Homo sapiens: one gene and its partners. The protein of the gene in region 2 interacts with the protein of the main gene of each other region in a pairwise test. Each region holds a gene or a part of one and is shown on either strand. Other genes may lie near its edges.

The links.
Region 1: the proteins of DNM2 (region 2) and PHOX2A interact in binary tests that used the Homo sapiens proteins (3 or more experiments, as listed by UniProt).
Region 3: the proteins of DNM2 (region 2) and IQUB interact in binary tests that used the Homo sapiens proteins (3 or more experiments, as listed by UniProt).
Region 4: the proteins of DNM2 (region 2) and MALT1 interact in binary tests that used the Homo sapiens proteins (3 or more experiments, as listed by UniProt).

Annotation. Positions count from the first base shown.
Region 1 is NC_000011.10:72,241,377-72,245,504, forward strand, and holds the start of PHOX2A (paired mesoderm homeobox protein 2A), read right to left. Parts: upstream 2,801-4,128; 5' UTR 2,629-2,800; coding exon 2,412-2,628; intron 1-2,411. UniProt on the Homo sapiens protein: May be involved in regulating the specificity of expression of the catecholamine biosynthetic genes. Acts as a transcription activator/factor. Could maintain the noradrenergic phenotype.
Region 2 is NC_000019.10:10,724,579-10,728,078, reverse strand, and holds part of DNM2 (dynamin-2), read right to left. Parts: intron 1-3,500. UniProt on the Homo sapiens protein: Catalyzes the hydrolysis of GTP and utilizes this energy to mediate vesicle scission at plasma membrane during endocytosis and filament remodeling at many actin structures during organization of the actin cytoskeleton.
Region 3 is NC_000007.14:123,531,796-123,536,063, reverse strand, and holds the start of IQUB (IQ motif and ubiquitin-like domain-containing protein), read left to right. Parts: upstream 1-1,468; 5' UTR 1,469-1,572; intron 1,573-2,870; exon of another isoform or gene 2,871-3,700; intron 3,701-4,268. UniProt on the Homo sapiens protein: Adapter protein that anchors the radial spoke 1 (RS1) complex to the A microtubule of outer doublet microtubules in axonemes. The triple radial spokes (RS1, RS2 and RS3) are required to modulate beating of the sperm flagellum.
Region 4 is NC_000018.10:58,744,465-58,747,964, forward strand, and holds part of MALT1 (mucosa-associated lymphoid tissue lymphoma translocation protein 1), read left to right. Parts: coding exon 1-31; intron 32-1,201; coding exon 1,202-1,327; intron 1,328-2,940; coding exon 2,941-3,378; 3' UTR 3,379-3,500. UniProt on the Homo sapiens protein: Protease that enhances BCL10-induced activation: acts via formation of CBM complexes that channel adaptive and innate immune signaling downstream of CARD domain-containing proteins (CARD9, CARD11 and CARD14) to activate NF-kappa-B and MAP kinase p38 pathways which stimulate expression of genes encoding pro-inflammatory cytokines and chemokines.

The DNA.
Region 1 (4,128 bases), on a different chromosome or scaffold from region 2:
GGGAATCACACGCCTCCCCCGTCCCTGGCCTGATCCCTCGTCTTGGTCCCGGCAGCCTGGGGCCGAGCGTCCTCCCTATTACTCAATGGAGCCGGCGGGATAAAGGCGGAGGGAGATCAGGGAGACCTGAGCCCCAAGAGCGGCCAAGGGGAAAGCATAATCCAATACTCCAGCCAAGACACTCCCTCCCCCACCCCACCCCCGTCGTCGCCCTCCTCCCAAGCCCTGTTCCCTCCATCTCCCCCTGCACCCCCATTCAACCGTGCCTCCGACCCTTCCCTCCTGTCTGTCTCTCAGCCCGTCTGTCCCCTCTGTCTACCCTGGCCCTGGATGTCTGTCAGGTCTCATCAGCATTGCCAGTCTTCCCACTAACCAGTTCTGGGCCAAGGCTCTGCAACAGAGACCCTCCCACCGGCCCTCCTTTCAGCCCTACCACCAGCCTTCCCACCGGCTCTCAGCTGTATACAGATTTGGCTCCCTCCACCCATCCACCTCTCCCCTTCCCAAGCCTCATTTCTTCAATTCTGCCCCACTCCCCTGACCCCCATTCTCCCCTAGATGTCCCCCTCTCCTCTTCCTAATCTTCCTCCATTTGAATCTCTCTTCAACTTTCCATTTCTCAGCCACTCTTCTCTTTGTGCCCATTGAGAAGACTTCCTCCATCTTCTCTTTGCGCCCATTGAGAAGACTTCCTCCATCTTCTCTTTGCCCTCCTTCTTCCTCCCCAGGCACCTTCTCCATGTCCCATCTCCTCCAAAGCCAACACTGCCCCCCAACTCTCTTCCTATACCCATCCCAGTCTCCACTGCCCCATAGGTAGTGTTTCTGACAGTACTTCCCTTCCCTGTCTGTAACCCTGGTTTAAGTCTTCATATTCACCAGGGGTCTCCAATCTCATCTTTGTCCCATCCAGGCCTCCATCTCCCCTGATTCTTGTCTCCAGCACCCCATTTGTATTCTTATCTTCGTCATCTCTATTTCTAATCTTCTTTGGTCCCCATCGCCTGATACTTATCTCTATCTCCCCAACCCTGAGTCCCCATTTCTCCTAGGATTTCCAGTGCTTCCATCTCTGCTCCCATCTCTCTGTACCTTATCCCCATCTCTCTGGTCTCAAAACCCTGTATCTCTGGAGGCTGTCTCCCCTCTTCCCAATCCCTACCCTCATCTGGCTCAGGGTACCCAATCTCCCCACCCTGGGCCTCATTTCTCCAAATCCAGGTTCTCATTTCTCGTATCTCTTCCCCAAACCCCAGCCTAGGGCCCAGTCTTCTTCTTCTTCTTCTTCTTTTTTTTTTGAGACCGAGTCTCATTCTGTCACCCAGGCTGGAATGCAATGGCACAGTCTCAGCTCACTGCAACCTCTGCCTCCCAGGTTCAAGCGATTCTCCTGCCTCAGACTCCCAAGTAGCTGGGATTACAGGCGTGGGCCACCATGCCCAGCTAATTTTTTTTTTTTTTTGTATTTTTAATGGAGATGGGGTTTCACCATGTTGGTTAGGCTGGTCTTGAACTCTTGACCTCAAGTGATCCACCCGCCTTGGCCTCCCAAAGTGCTGGGATTACAGGCATGAGCCACCGCGCCTGGCCCTTAGGCCCCAGTCTTCTACTTGGGTCCCCGGCAGTCTTCCCAGGAGGGAAGGCGATAAGATTACATAGGGCAGGCTGGGACTCTAATCAGAGGGCTGAGATGACTGAGAAGCTCAGTGAGGTTGAGGGTTTGGACAGGGACTTGGATCTAAAGTCTTGGGGATGCAGGAGCTGCTTCCGGGTTCTACAGAACTCTAGCTGGGAGAGTCTGGGGGAATGGGGAAATACAAGTGGCTTAAAAACCCGGGCCCCTTTATTGCGGGCTACGGGATCTGGTTTTGGTGGCTACAGAAGGGTTCGGTCCCAGGCAGCGTGGGTCCAAGACAGGGCAGGAGGGGCCTGATGGCCACGCGAGCTCTAGGAAGCTTCCCGTCTGGGCAGCTCAGCTGCCTGGAGAGGTCCTTGCTGGGGGTCATGCATCTCGTGGGGCAGCGGTGATGGGGTGGGGTGATAAGTGGTGATAGGGCTGGGCTGGGAGCCTTTTTCAAAGATCCAGCGCTTGTAGAGGTTTAGTGGTCAGTCTTTGCAGGTGGTGAGGGGAAGGCCTGGTAAGGGGCCCAGAGCTGGATGGGGATATATTTCCTTGACCTGAAGGGCACGAGACAGAGATTTGGCAACGAGAAAAAGGAACAGGAGAGATGAGAGGGTGAGGCTCATTCCTGCGGAGGAGAACCTCGTATTCTGGGGGTCTCTCGGGGCATTGGAGGGTCTGGCCAAGGCAGGAATGGGGGCGGCTGAGGGGGACAGTCGCATTCACTTGGCGAGCGGGCCCAGGGATTCTGCAGGAATTGGAGGGAGGGTTGGGCCGGGGCTGCGCTCACCTGCCGAGTAGGGCGCGGGCTGGTGGTCGCGTAGGGCGCCAAGTGCGCAGTTGGAGGAGCCGAGCGCGGGGCAGGGCGGCCCTGCCGCGGGGAAAGCGGGCCGCAGGGGGCTGTATTGGAAGCCGCCGGGCTGGCTGCAGGCGCCAAAGTCGCCGTAGGCGGACGCCTCCATGGCCGCCACGCACGAGTCGTACGAATTGAGGTAGGAGTAGTCCATCGGCCCGGGGGGCGGGGGCGGGGGCCGGGCCAGGCCGGGTCGGGGTCGGGGTCCGGGTGGAGGTCGGAAGGGAGGTTCGAGCGCCAGGCTCCGAGGACCCGAGGCCAGCTCTGAGCGCCCGAGAGTCCGCCCGCCCCGTCGCGGCCGCACTCAGCCCGGGTGCAACGCAAGTGCAGCCAGCCCGGCCCGCGCGCCTTTTAACGCGCAGGACCCCGCGGAGGGGGGCGGGGCGGGGCGAGCTCCGAAGGGGCGGGGCCTAGGAGGCCCAGACACCGCCCAAAGCCGCCCCGACCCCCACCCCGAAGGGTCCCCGCCGCCGTCTTAGGGCTCAGAGGTGTGGAGCTGGGATGCGCGGGACCCTATCCCCGGAGTCCCTATCCTGCCCCAATCCGGACCAGACCTTCGGTCTCTACACAGCGTCCGAGGCCAGAGGGTCCCGACCCTTTTCCCGGGCCTCCCCACCTGCGGCCCCGCGGAAGGGAGGGGAGGCAGGCCTGGCGGCGCTCGTGTGAAGAAGTTAATTCAATTCGCTCTGATAACCGAGTTATTCCGATCTGGCCCCTCAGCCCCGCCCCCAGCGAGGTCCCATCCCGGCGGAGACTGCGGAGGCGGCCCAGGAAGGGGGATGGAGACCGGGAAGAGACGGAGCCTGGGATGGGGACAGGGAAGGGACGTGGATAGACAGAGGAAACAGAGACCGGGAGAGAAAGGGGCAGAAACAGTGATGGAGACAGGGACAAGAGATACAGGTACACAGAGGGAGACAAGGACGGAACATACACAGCGAAAGACAGGATGGAGCGGGGACAGGGCAGAGACAGGAGATGAGGGTAAGAGAGAGACAGGATGGAGCGGGGACAGGGCAGAGACAGGAGATGAGGTTAAGAGAGAGACAAGAGGAGACAGGGAGACAGGGGGACGAGAAAGAGAGTGAGGGAGGCATGGAGACAGAAGGGGTCGGGATGAGACATGGACGGCAACCAGGACTGCGGTGGAGAGCAAGGGAGGGATGAGACAAAACAGAGGCAGGAATCGTGAGACAGACACATATGCCCAGGGACAGTCTGAGAGAGACAGGGCCAGGGACAGCCACAAGCGCGGGAGCAGAGGCTGAGAGCGGAGAGAAAACGCCTCCGGGGAGCTTAGACACGAGGGCTGGAGCGCAGAGGGGCCCAGGGATGATGCTGGAGGCTCTGGGGTGCGGCCTCCACGGGGCTGCGGAGAGGGAGGGTCGTGGGAGCCAGGTCCCTCTACCCTGACTTGTCCCGAGGCCCACACGACCTTGCACCTTCAGGGCCCGCCTGCCTCTCCCCCCGTTCCCTCAGCTCCATCTGCAGTATGCGACCCTCTCCTGTGACCTTGGGCTCAGGATGCGATGGATGTCAGAAAGGGAACGTACCCCGTGACCTCTTTATTGTTCTTCAGTCTCTTACCCCTGTTCTCCAGGGCCCCCCGCTTTTTTTCTCCAGGGAAACCACCTAGACTCAGTCTGCACCTGGC
Region 2 (3,500 bases):
GTTACCAATATTCACAGAAACCCAAAACGCACCCGGAAGCAGGCGTCTTTCCTCTCTTTGCAGTCCTGCTTCAGACGCAGGGCCACATTTTCCCTTTATTCAGATTGTAGCTAATGCCCTATAAATATCTCATTATTGGCTTGGATTTTTCCAAAGCTTTAACACAATAAGGGCTTAATTACAGCTTGTAGTTGGCAATCCCAGTAAATTACGGTTTACATGATGTTCTCACTTTTTTTCAGCAGCCGAGGGGCCTATAATTTCAGCACTTTCATTCAAATCGGGCAGAAGTTTGGCAGATGTGGCTCTGAGCCAAATATAAACGCTGAGAGCGACAGCGAGACAGGGTTCCATTCAAAGGCCAGCCTCTACCGCCTAAGCCAACTCTGAAAACTCTAAATCTAACCTAGGCCGGGTGCCGTGGCTCTTGCCTGTAATCCCAGCACTTTGGGAAGCCGAGGCAGGAGAATCACTTGAGCCCAGGGGTTTGAGACTAGCCTGGGCAAAAAATAATGAGACCCCACCTCTACAAAAAATTTCTTAAAATTAGCTGGGGGTGGTGGCGCACACCTGTGGTCCCAGCTAATTGGGAGGCTGAAGTGGGAAGATCCCTTGAGCCCAGGAAGTTGAGGTTGCTGTGAGCTGTGATCACGCCACTGCATTTCAGCCTAGGCAACAGAGTGAGATCCCGTCTCAAAAAAAAACAAAAAAAGAAAAAGAAAAGAAAAGAAAACCTCCTCTCTAAATCTACAACTGTCCCCAAGGCCATCTTCCGCCCTCATCCAGAAACAATCCAGGTTATTACCAGGGGATTTCAATGTTATGAACCTATCAAGGGCTGTTATCCGTCAATAAGTAACTCTGAAAAAGCACTTGGACAGCCTAGAGCGCAGCTTTGGAGAAATCTGTCTTCCTGATTATAAACCTAATCCCCAAACCAGCAAAAACAAACCAAGAATCACATGGGGAGACGATTCACATGTGGGGTTAGGGCAGAGTATGTCTTTCCGGTCTTTTCACTGAGCAAATACAATCGTTTTAAACAAGACAGGATCCCACAGCCCATTTCATCTGGTACCTAACAGGTCTTGTGCAGCTTTCTGGGTCATTAAAGATTCTTCTAGATCCCTCTGAGTAGCGAGTTGATAGTCGGTTGTCTGGACACGCTTATCTGGCCAAATCCCCTATCATTGGTTTTTGTTTGTTTGTTTGTTTTGAGACAGAGTCTCGCTCTGTTGCCCAGGCTGGAGTGCAGCGGCGCAATCTCGGCTTACCGCAACCTCCGTCCCCCAGGTTCAAGCGATTCTCCGCCTCAGCCTCCCGAATAGCTGGGATTACAGGCGCCTGCCACCACGCCCGGCTAATTTTTGTATTTTTAGTAGAGATGAGGGTTCACCATGTTGGCCAGGCTGGTCTCGAACTCCTGACCTCTGGTGATCCGATGCTGGGCATTTTTTCTCCCATTTCTCATCACCGTACACAAAATGTGTGTAAATAACTCTCACGGCCAATTACTTGTTTGCAGCCATGATTCCCACTTAGAAAGGAACCAGGAACAACTTCTGGTCGATATTTCAGGATCTGGGGAACAGGGCGTGCCTGCATGTCCTGGTCCTGGCTGTATCCCCAGAGCAAGAACATTGCCTGCACTGATAGGCACTCCATTTATATCAACAGAGTAATGATGAGTTCCTTCTCTTTAAGGAAAAAGAAACTAAGGCCGGGTTCGGCGGCTCACACCTGTAATTCCACCACTTTGGGAAGCCAAGGCAGGAGGATCGCTTGGGCCCAGGAGTTTGACACCAAACTGAGCAACAAAGTAAGACCCTGTCTCTAAAAAAAAAAAAATTTTTTTTTTTTGAGGCAGAGTCTCGCTCTGTCGCCCAGGCTGGAGTGCAGTGGCACGATCTCGGCTCACTGCAACCTCCGCCTCCCAGGTTCAAGCGATTCTCCTGCCTCAGCCTCCCGAGCAGCTGGGACTACAGGTGAGAGCCACCACACCCACCTAATTTTTGGATTTTTAGTAGAGACAGGGTTTCACCATGTTGGCCAGGATGGTCTCAATCTCTTGACCCCGTGATCCGCCCGCCTCGGCCTCCCCAAGTGCTGGGAATACAAGTGTGAGCCATCGCTCCCTGCCAAAAAAATTTTTTTGTAATTAGCCAGGTGTGGTGGCTCATGCCTATAGTCCCAGCTACTCAGGAGACTCAGGTGAGAGGACCACCTGAACCCAGGAGTTGGAGGCTGCAGTGAGCCATGATTACGCCACTGTACTCCAGTCTGGGGGACAGAGCAAGAGAAAAGAAACGTACACCTGTCATCAGAGTCCTGATCCCAGATAAAAGGAGACAAAAGCCAACCAACGAGATCACAAATGCTGCCTGTTTCACAACAATTTGCTACGTGATTCTCAGTCCACTCCCAGTAGGCAGAGACCACCATGTTCCCATTTTCCAGATGAGGAAACTGAGGCCCAGAGAAGTGAGGTCACTTTTTTGGTGTGTGGCAGAACCAAGCCTTCCATATTCCCACAGATCCCTCTGGACTGTACCAATTCCAGCAGGCCCAGCACTGCAGACCACCCTAACCGAGCCTTGCATGGCCTTTCCTTTTTTCCTTTTTTTTTTTTTTTTGAGATGGAGTCTCACTCTGTCCCCCAGGCTGGAGTGCAATGGCGTGATCTCCGCTTACTGCAAGTTCCTCCTCCTGGGTTCAAGTGATTCTCCTGCCTCAGCCTCCCAAATAGCTGGGACTAAAGGCATGCGCCACCACACCTGGCTAATTTTTGTATTTTTAGTAGAGATCGGGATTCACTATGTTGGCCAGGCTGGTCTCAAACTCCCAACCTTGTGATCTGCCTGCCTCGGCCTCCCAAAATGCTGGGATTACAGGTGTGAGTCACCATGCCCGGCCATGTATGGCCTTTTCAAGATGCAATTTGTCTTTGCCCAAAAGGAAAGTCACTGGAAACAGAAGATGTCATTTCCAAGTGGCTCTAAACTAATAAGATCTGTTAAAGGGACAAACCAGCCCAAGGAACACATCACGTGCCCCTCCATCTGTCAGGGACAGGAGCCAACGGGCATCCGATGTGCACTGGTGCAGCACCCACTGAGGCACAGGCAGTGCCCCCGCGGCTCATCCACATATCCCTGGAGGGACACATCACCAAAGGCCAAATAAAAACGCAGCTGGAAACGCCAGCATCCCCGGCACAGCTGCTTCTTATTAAAAGAAAAATGGCACGGGGCGCCTACATGCCTGTGGAGTCTGCTTACTGAGAAAACTGAGTTGAAGCTGGAAATCAAAGGAGAGAGCCCTCAGCTTGGCCAGGTCCAGAGGGACAGCAGTAGCGCCACCAGCTTTACTTCCCTCTGCTCAGACAGCCTCCCTGCCCACAATGTTCCTAGAGGCCTGGTCCCACCCTAATATCTCCCAGATCTGATCTCCCTCCACTGGCCTGCTAAACTGGCCTCCGGGCATCCTCCCACATCAGGACC
Region 3 (4,268 bases), on a different chromosome or scaffold from region 2:
TCGTTGTAAGGATTAAATTAGAAATCTATGTACGGTGCCTCATGACAATGAATACTTCATAAATGTTAGCTGCTATTATGAGATAGCAACATGTAGTTTGTTACTAAATTTCCAAGAGGAACATACTTGACTTGACCTCCAATACTATCCTGTGGTTCTTTAAAAGTTTTCTTATTCATTGATAGGCCGGGCGCGGTGGCTCACTCCTGTAATCCCCAACACTTTTGAAGGCGGATTGCTTGAGGCTAGGAGTTCCAGATCAGCCTGGCCAACATGGTGAAACCCCATCTCTACTAAAAATACCAAAATTAGCCGGGGGTGGTGGCGGGCGCCTGTAATCTCAGCTACTCAGGAGGCTGAGGCAGGAGAATCGCGGGAGCCAGGGAGGTAGAGGTTGCATTGAGCCGAGATCGAACCACTGCACTTCAACCTGGGCGACAGAGCAAGACTCTGTATACACTAGAAAAAAAAAAAAAAAAAAGAATTTGTTGTTAGACAAAATTTAGTTTATTAACTAATTTAGTGATTAACAAAAGTTCTTCTAAGCAGAATTATTTGATAGCTACTATCTCCCTTTTCTCTTTGGCTGCCAGGAAGCTGAGAGCCAAGTTGTTAGTTTAACAAAAGCAAGTAGGCACCTGACAGTTTCTCGCCTCTGACTTCATCGTGATGATTTCTCTGACTCGGATTTTTTTTATATCTGTAAAATTAAACTGCTGTCAGTGTTTGGTTTAGAGAGCTGTGCCGTTTCACAAGTGTAAAAGATCTTGGAGAGAAGTTAGTGTCCTGATTCACTTGGATCTAGGTAGCCAGTTGGTAACAGCCTCCGCCTCTGGCTCCTCCCCTTCTCCCTGCCGCGTCCCTCCTCCCCGCCCCTTCGCCTCTGGCCCCGCCCCTTCTCCCTGCCGCTTCCCTCCTCCACGCCCGCTCGCCTCTGACTCCTCCCCTTCTCCCTGACGCGTCCCTCTTCCTGTCTCTTCGCCTCTGGCTCCTCCCCTTTCTCCTGCCATGTTTCTTCTCCCCGCCCCCTCGCCTCTGGCTCCTCCCCCTTTTCCCTATCGCGTTCCTCCTTTGCAGCCCCCATCCCCCTCCTCTGGCTCCTCTTCTTCCCTACCGCGATCCTCCTTCCAGACCCCGGCCCCCAGCCCGCCTCTAGCTCCTTCCCTTATTTCCTGCCGCGCTCCTCCTTCCCGACACCGCCCCTCCGCCTCTGGCTACTCCTCTTCTCTCCTGCCGCACTCCTCCTTCCCGGCCCCACCTCCCCGCCTCTGGCTCATCCCCTTCTCTTCTGCCGCCCTCCTCCTTCCCGGCCCCGCCCCCAGTCTTTGGCTCCTCCCCCTACCCTGCCGCGCTCCTCCTTCCCGGCCCCTCCCCGCTGCCCTCTTCTGGCTCCTCCCCCCCACCCGCCTCTGGCTCCTCTCCTTCCCACCCCTGCCGTGCTCCGGCAGGAAGAGGTGGTGCCAGGGCCGTTGCTAGGATACGACCAACAGCTGAGAACGCGGCGAGTATGGAAGCTGCGTCTTAGGAGCCTGGGAAAGCACTTCGACGAGAATAGTTTGGTTTCGTACACAGGTAGGAGAACAGATTTTGACTGCGGCCTCCTGGTCCGACGCTTAGATCCAGCCTAGAGCCGGTGACAGCCGCGCTGGACTCTGGGTTCTGTGTGCTGGGCAGTGATTCCCACCTGAGCGCCTGGGGCTGCCTAGTCGGTCAGGAATGTTCCGACTTTACTTTAAAAACCGTGCGAAGCATCTCATCTTTCTCGGCTCCTTTTTTGGCTTCCCCTCTCTGATTTGGGACTTGAACCAGCAGCATCAAGCTAGGAGGTACACCTCACCTCACACCCTGGGTGCTTGTCACGGTAATTGCATAGAAGATGTGTGTATAACCCACACCTGGCACTAGAGACTCTTAGCCTTCCGTGGCCACCATTCTCATATTAAGTCGAGAGATTTTAGACTTTCCTCACCTGGCACTCTCACTCCTTCCTCTCCACCCTTGGTCTTTGCCTCTTAACAAACCTAAAAATTCAACAGATCTATTTGGTAGAAGGCAATACTGGATCCCTGCCTCACTAATTATACTACATTCTAAATGTGTTAAGCTTTAAATGGTAGGGAATGAAATGTAGGTGAAAAGGGAGACTTTTTTGTATGCAAACATGATAGAGGTTGCTTTTTAAACAATAAGATTTAAACATTTTCATTTGAATAGATAATACATAAAAAAATAGTTCGAATAGTAAAAAGAATGAAGAGTGAAAATCCTCCATCTACCCATTTCTCCCCATCTCCAGGCCACCTTCCACAGGTGTTTTAGACATACGCAAATATGTAGTTACACCTGTAACATTGTGCATACTCTTCTGTGATTGGCTTTTACACTTAAGACTGTGTGTCCAGTTGTTTTCTATCAATATTTACAGATCTGTCTCATTTATGCATTTATGGATGAATTTATGTATTTATGTTTCATTGTGAGAAGGTGTTTCGAAGCATGTCAGGAAATTTGGAAACTCTCATAAGCAAAAAGATTGATAAATGTCACTACCTAACAATCTAAAACTTTTATATAGTAAGAGAAAAACAACATCAAACATACAATGGGAAATATAAGGGCAACACACAACAAAGGGATATTTAATTATTAGGACTCATAAAACAATATGAGGATGTAAGGAAACAGTCAAGGGGAACTTCTTGGGGCTATAATAGAAAACAGTTTGATGGAATTTAACAAAATTAAGATCTGTATGCCCTTTGACTTGTCCATTCTAATTCTGGGAACTCATTTTCAGTATACTTACACATATATACAGAGATAGATGTATAAAATGTTTGTTGCAGCACTATTTTTAATAGTAAAAAACTAGAGGGGTCTGCATGGCGGGGCCTCGGAGCCAAGACGAGGTTGAGTAGACTCGTTTTGAATTTTCTCCCCTCTGCTCCGGCGGACTTCCCATGTCGCCTTGTGGGGCTATCGGCGGCGGCAGGACTGGGGGAGTCAGAGGTCTGGCAGCGCTGTCTGCGCAGACCTACCGGACGCTACCTCCCAACCCCCCTTTCTTCCTCCTGCCTCCTCCTCCTCCCGTCACCTCCTGACCCGCCGGAGCTCCGAGCAACTGCCGGCCTCCGCCCCCAGCCGCAGCCGGTCACTGGCGGCGCCTTCCGCGCCAAGCTTGGGGGCCTTTTCGGGGTCCTACATGGCACGGCTTCCGACCCCCGGCCCGGGACGGGGCTCGCAGGCCCCAGAGGGGCAGGCTGGAGAAGGAGGAGGTTAGGTGTCTTCAGGAGGGTTGCTGAGCCCAAGGACGCGCCATCGCCGCGGAGAAGGAGCCGGACCCCTTGGGCGGAGCGCCCAATGTGTGGTCCCTCACGCCGTCCCGCACCTTGCTTTTTAGGGTTCTTTTTCCGCTTTCTGAGCCCTTTTATACCTTACGTTTAGAAGGGGAAAATCATCCTCCCACACCTTCTCCCCGACTTTTTGCCTTTTTTGTCTTGAAGTTACCCAAAGGTCTGTGTATTGTTCTCAGTGGTCCCAAGAATTACTCGAATATAGTTGTTTTTCTGAGGGAGGATGGATGGAGATAACTATCCTGATCCCAGTGTCACTTTTTAAGGCATTCGCTTCAAGAGACAAGCAGTTTAGAATCAGGCAGAACTGGATTGCAAAATTTATGGGCAGACCGGTATGTGTGAAGGTGAAGACAAAGCTTTCCTTTTTTACGTTGTTTAAAGATGTCCTACTGTAAGGTAGACGCCTAATATTTAAATGAACGCCTAATATTTAAATAGAGAATGAGAAGAGATTTAAACAATTGGAAGAAAAAAATAATTTTTATTAGAAAGCAATGACAATAAAAGTAGGACTCTTTTCAGTTTACTCACCTTTGTAACTCCGAATCCGGGCCCTGGAACCAGAATTCCTGGGTTCAAATCCTGCCTCTGCTACTTGATTAACCTTTTTGTGCCACACTTTTATCAACTGTAAGAATTAACTGCGCCATCGGAAGCACTCAGTATATGTTAATTATTATCATCAAATAGTTACTAATTCCAGTTTAACTAGAAGCTTTGCCAGCGTGAATAGATAAGGGAGAATAGCCACATTGAGTGGAGGAATAAAATTAGAAAACCTCTGTGCTGAAGTCCCAGGAGATCACTTATTAGGCTTGAGCTTGCTAATGGAAGTGGTGATCGTTTAACCATGTGGTTATTGTAGTGGTGAAGATTTACACATTAAATAAGTCTTGGGCATCTGAAGCTTGA
Region 4 (3,500 bases), on a different chromosome or scaffold from region 2:
GTGTGATGCCTACGTTACTGATTTTCCACTTGTGAGTCTCTTCTTTTATTTAAAATACAGTGATATATTCTCACTTATTAAAGACTAAATTTTTTAAAACTTAAAGTTGATGGTAAATATAAAGGAAATATATATATTTATATATGTGTATATATTTATAGTTTAGTAACACTGATCATAATATTTACTAATTGCCAAAATACCTTAAGTTTATGAGATTTAGAAATGTCTAAAGTTCACTCAGGAAGGATGCCTCTAATTTCTTATATCCTAAACACGAGAGCCAATGTGAAGGAATAAAATGTGCTATAAATATGTCAAGAATAATTTCCTTTTAAACAGTTATAACTTATATTGGAAACAGTAGTTTTTAAGTCTTGTTAAGGTATGGTCATATGCTGGAATAATAGAAATCTAGTTCTGCTCTTTTCAAACATTTAGGTTTGATAGTTATTTTACGTTGGTCTAAAGAAGCCAGTAAATAGTACCCCTCTTTCCTACATGAGTGTGACAAACTGAGAAGCAAGCAAGGAGTAAGACAAGCAGAAACCCAAAATATCACTTTGATTACTGATAGAGGCTTTGTGGAGGATATTGCTTCATGTCAGAGTAAATGGTCTAGCACCAAACCCCAGAATTGAGTGGCCACCCCACACCTCCAGTCTCAGCAGTACGGAGCCCAGATAGGCTTCCTGAGGTACTGAGCAAGCTGGGGGCCTGTGGGCTTCTCACTGGAGCAGCAGAACCCTTACTCTTGGCCATTGGGTTGGCTCTAAAAGAAGAAAAAGGAAAAGGCTGTTTATTTATCCTTCTTAAATATTCTAATCATATAAATTTCCCTGCACCTTCCCAAAAGTGATGATTAAGAGGAGAGAATCCAGGAGTCAAACACTAATGGGGCTCTCTCTGCTTAAGAGGAAACTTGAGTAGCTCAAGAAGCATTTCTAGGAATCATTTGAAAGGAAGCTCTTTCAGAGCTCACTTTACTTTTTAGATGGCTTAGTACAGAATTGAGAATTCCTATTATAACCATAGATTGTTGTTTTCATTGTTTAGTCCTGGATAATTTTGGGATTACCAAAATTCACGAGAGGCCAGAATTCACGAGAGGATAGTATCAGTTAAGATGTCTTATGTACTAGATTATATTGTGGCTTTCATTGATTTCATTATTAACAGTCCCTAATTTTTTTTTTTACAGGATCTAGATATTGATCCAAAAGATGCAAATAAAGGCACACCTGAAGAAACTGGCAGCTACTTGGTATCAAAGGATCTTCCCAAGCATTGCCTCTATACCAGACTCAGTTCACTGCAAAAATTAAAGGTTACTACCTTTTCTGTTTATAGCTACTAATGGAAAACTTTATGAAACTGGAAACTTATTTTGGCATAGACCATAGATATGCTGCCTTATTATTAAAGTAGAGATAACCAGTCTACAGAAGGTCCTATCAGTGACCCTTTTTATATTCTGTTTCCGATGGTGACCAGAGGACTTTATGTGTGCTTACCCTCCAGAATGCTAAAAAATTAGTAACATTAGAGTATATTCTTTTTTCTTTTTTTAGAGACAGAGTCTTAACTCTGTCACCCAGGCTGGAGTGCAGTGGCATGAACATGACCTACTATAACCTCAAACTCCTCAGTGCATATGATCCTGCCACCTCAGCTTCCCAAGTATCTGAGTCTACAGGCACATGCCACTACACCCAGCTAATTTTTTAAAACTTTTTGTGGAGAAGGGATCTCACTATATTGCCCAGGCCAATCTCAAACTCCTGGCCTCAAGAATCCTCCCTTCTTGGTCTCCCAAAGCACTCGGAGTACAGGTGTGAGCTTCCACTCCCAGCTCCATATTCTACTTTTAAATATGTTCAGATTTTCAAGTAATCATTTCCTAGTTCTATGACTAGACATATAGCAAATTAGAATTTTTTTTCCATTTTTTTATTTCTAGTTGACTTACAAATGAGAAGCTAGTTCTGCACATTGAGTGTTCTAATGAAAGCTTTTAATTTGTTCACAACTACATGACCATAGAATGTATCAGCTAAAACTCAGGGAATGGAATGGGCATGATTGAGAATTACACACATAAACCTGTTGTCATCCTGTTCGGAGCTCATCTACTTAAAATCCTTTCTTCTCTTAAAAAGTTAGCCCATTATCTGATTCAGTTATATTTTCCACCTACGATTATGGATTACTATAATATTTTAAAAACAGCTTAAGCTTTTTTTATAAAACTGGTATAAAACCAGGTTTTTTTTTTTGTTTTGAGATGGTGTCTCTCTCTGTCGCCTAGGTTGGAATGCAGTGGCGCGATCTCAGCTCACTGCAACCTCCACCTCCCAGACTCAAGTGATTCTTGTGCCTCAGCCTCCCGAGTAGCCAGGACTACAGGCGCACACCACCATGCCCAGTTAATTTTTTGTATTTTTAGTAGAGACAGGTTTCACCACGTTGGCCAGACTGGTCTTGAACTCCTAACTTCAAGTGATCCATCTGCGTCATCCTCCCAAAGTGCTGGGATTATAGGCGTGAGCCACCACGCCGGGCCCAGATCATTTTTTAATTAAAAGTTAATACCCCATCTCTAATAATAGGGAAGGGTAAGTTTCCTAAGCTGCACTGCTTGGAAAATGTTTTCCCTGTTCATCTAGAGTGTAAGAAAGATCTCTTTGACTTTGACTACTAACAGTAGTAAGAACTAGAAATTCTAAATGGGTTGTAAGTATTGCATGAAGGAAAAGGAAGATAATGATAGCTGGCGTTTCTCAGTTTCAGGGAGATATAAAGGATGCCTTGAGGATTTGGAACCTGGGAAAGGAGAGTGAGTGGATTTTTGGGGGTGGGGGTGTGTATGTGTGAATATTTTCAGATTGATATATATTCACTGTTGATGCCAATAATAAACCAGATTTTTTTCCTTTTCAGGAACATCTAGTCTTCACAGTATGTTTATCATATCAGTACTCAGGATTGGAAGATACTGTAGAGGACAAGCAGGAAGTGAATGTTGGGAAACCTCTCATTGCTAAATTAGACATGCATCGAGGTTTGGGAAGGAAGACTTGCTTTCAAACTTGTCTTATGTCTAATGGTCCTTACCAGAGTTCTGCAGCCACCTCAGGAGGAGCAGGGCATTATCACTCATTGCAAGACCCATTCCATGGTGTTTACCATTCACATCCTGGTAATCCAAGTAATGTTACACCAGCAGATAGCTGTCATTGCAGCCGGACTCCAGATGCATTTATTTCAAGTTTCGCTCACCATGCTTCATGTCATTTTAGTAGAAGTAATGTGCCAGTAGAGACAACTGATGAAATACCATTTAGTTTCTCTGACAGGCTCAGAATTTCTGAAAAATGACCTCCTTGTTTTTGAAAGTTAGCATAATTTTAGATGCCTGTGAAATAGTACTGCACTTACATAAAGTGAGACATTGTGAAAAGGCAAATTTGTATATGTAGAGAAAGAATAGTAGTAACTGT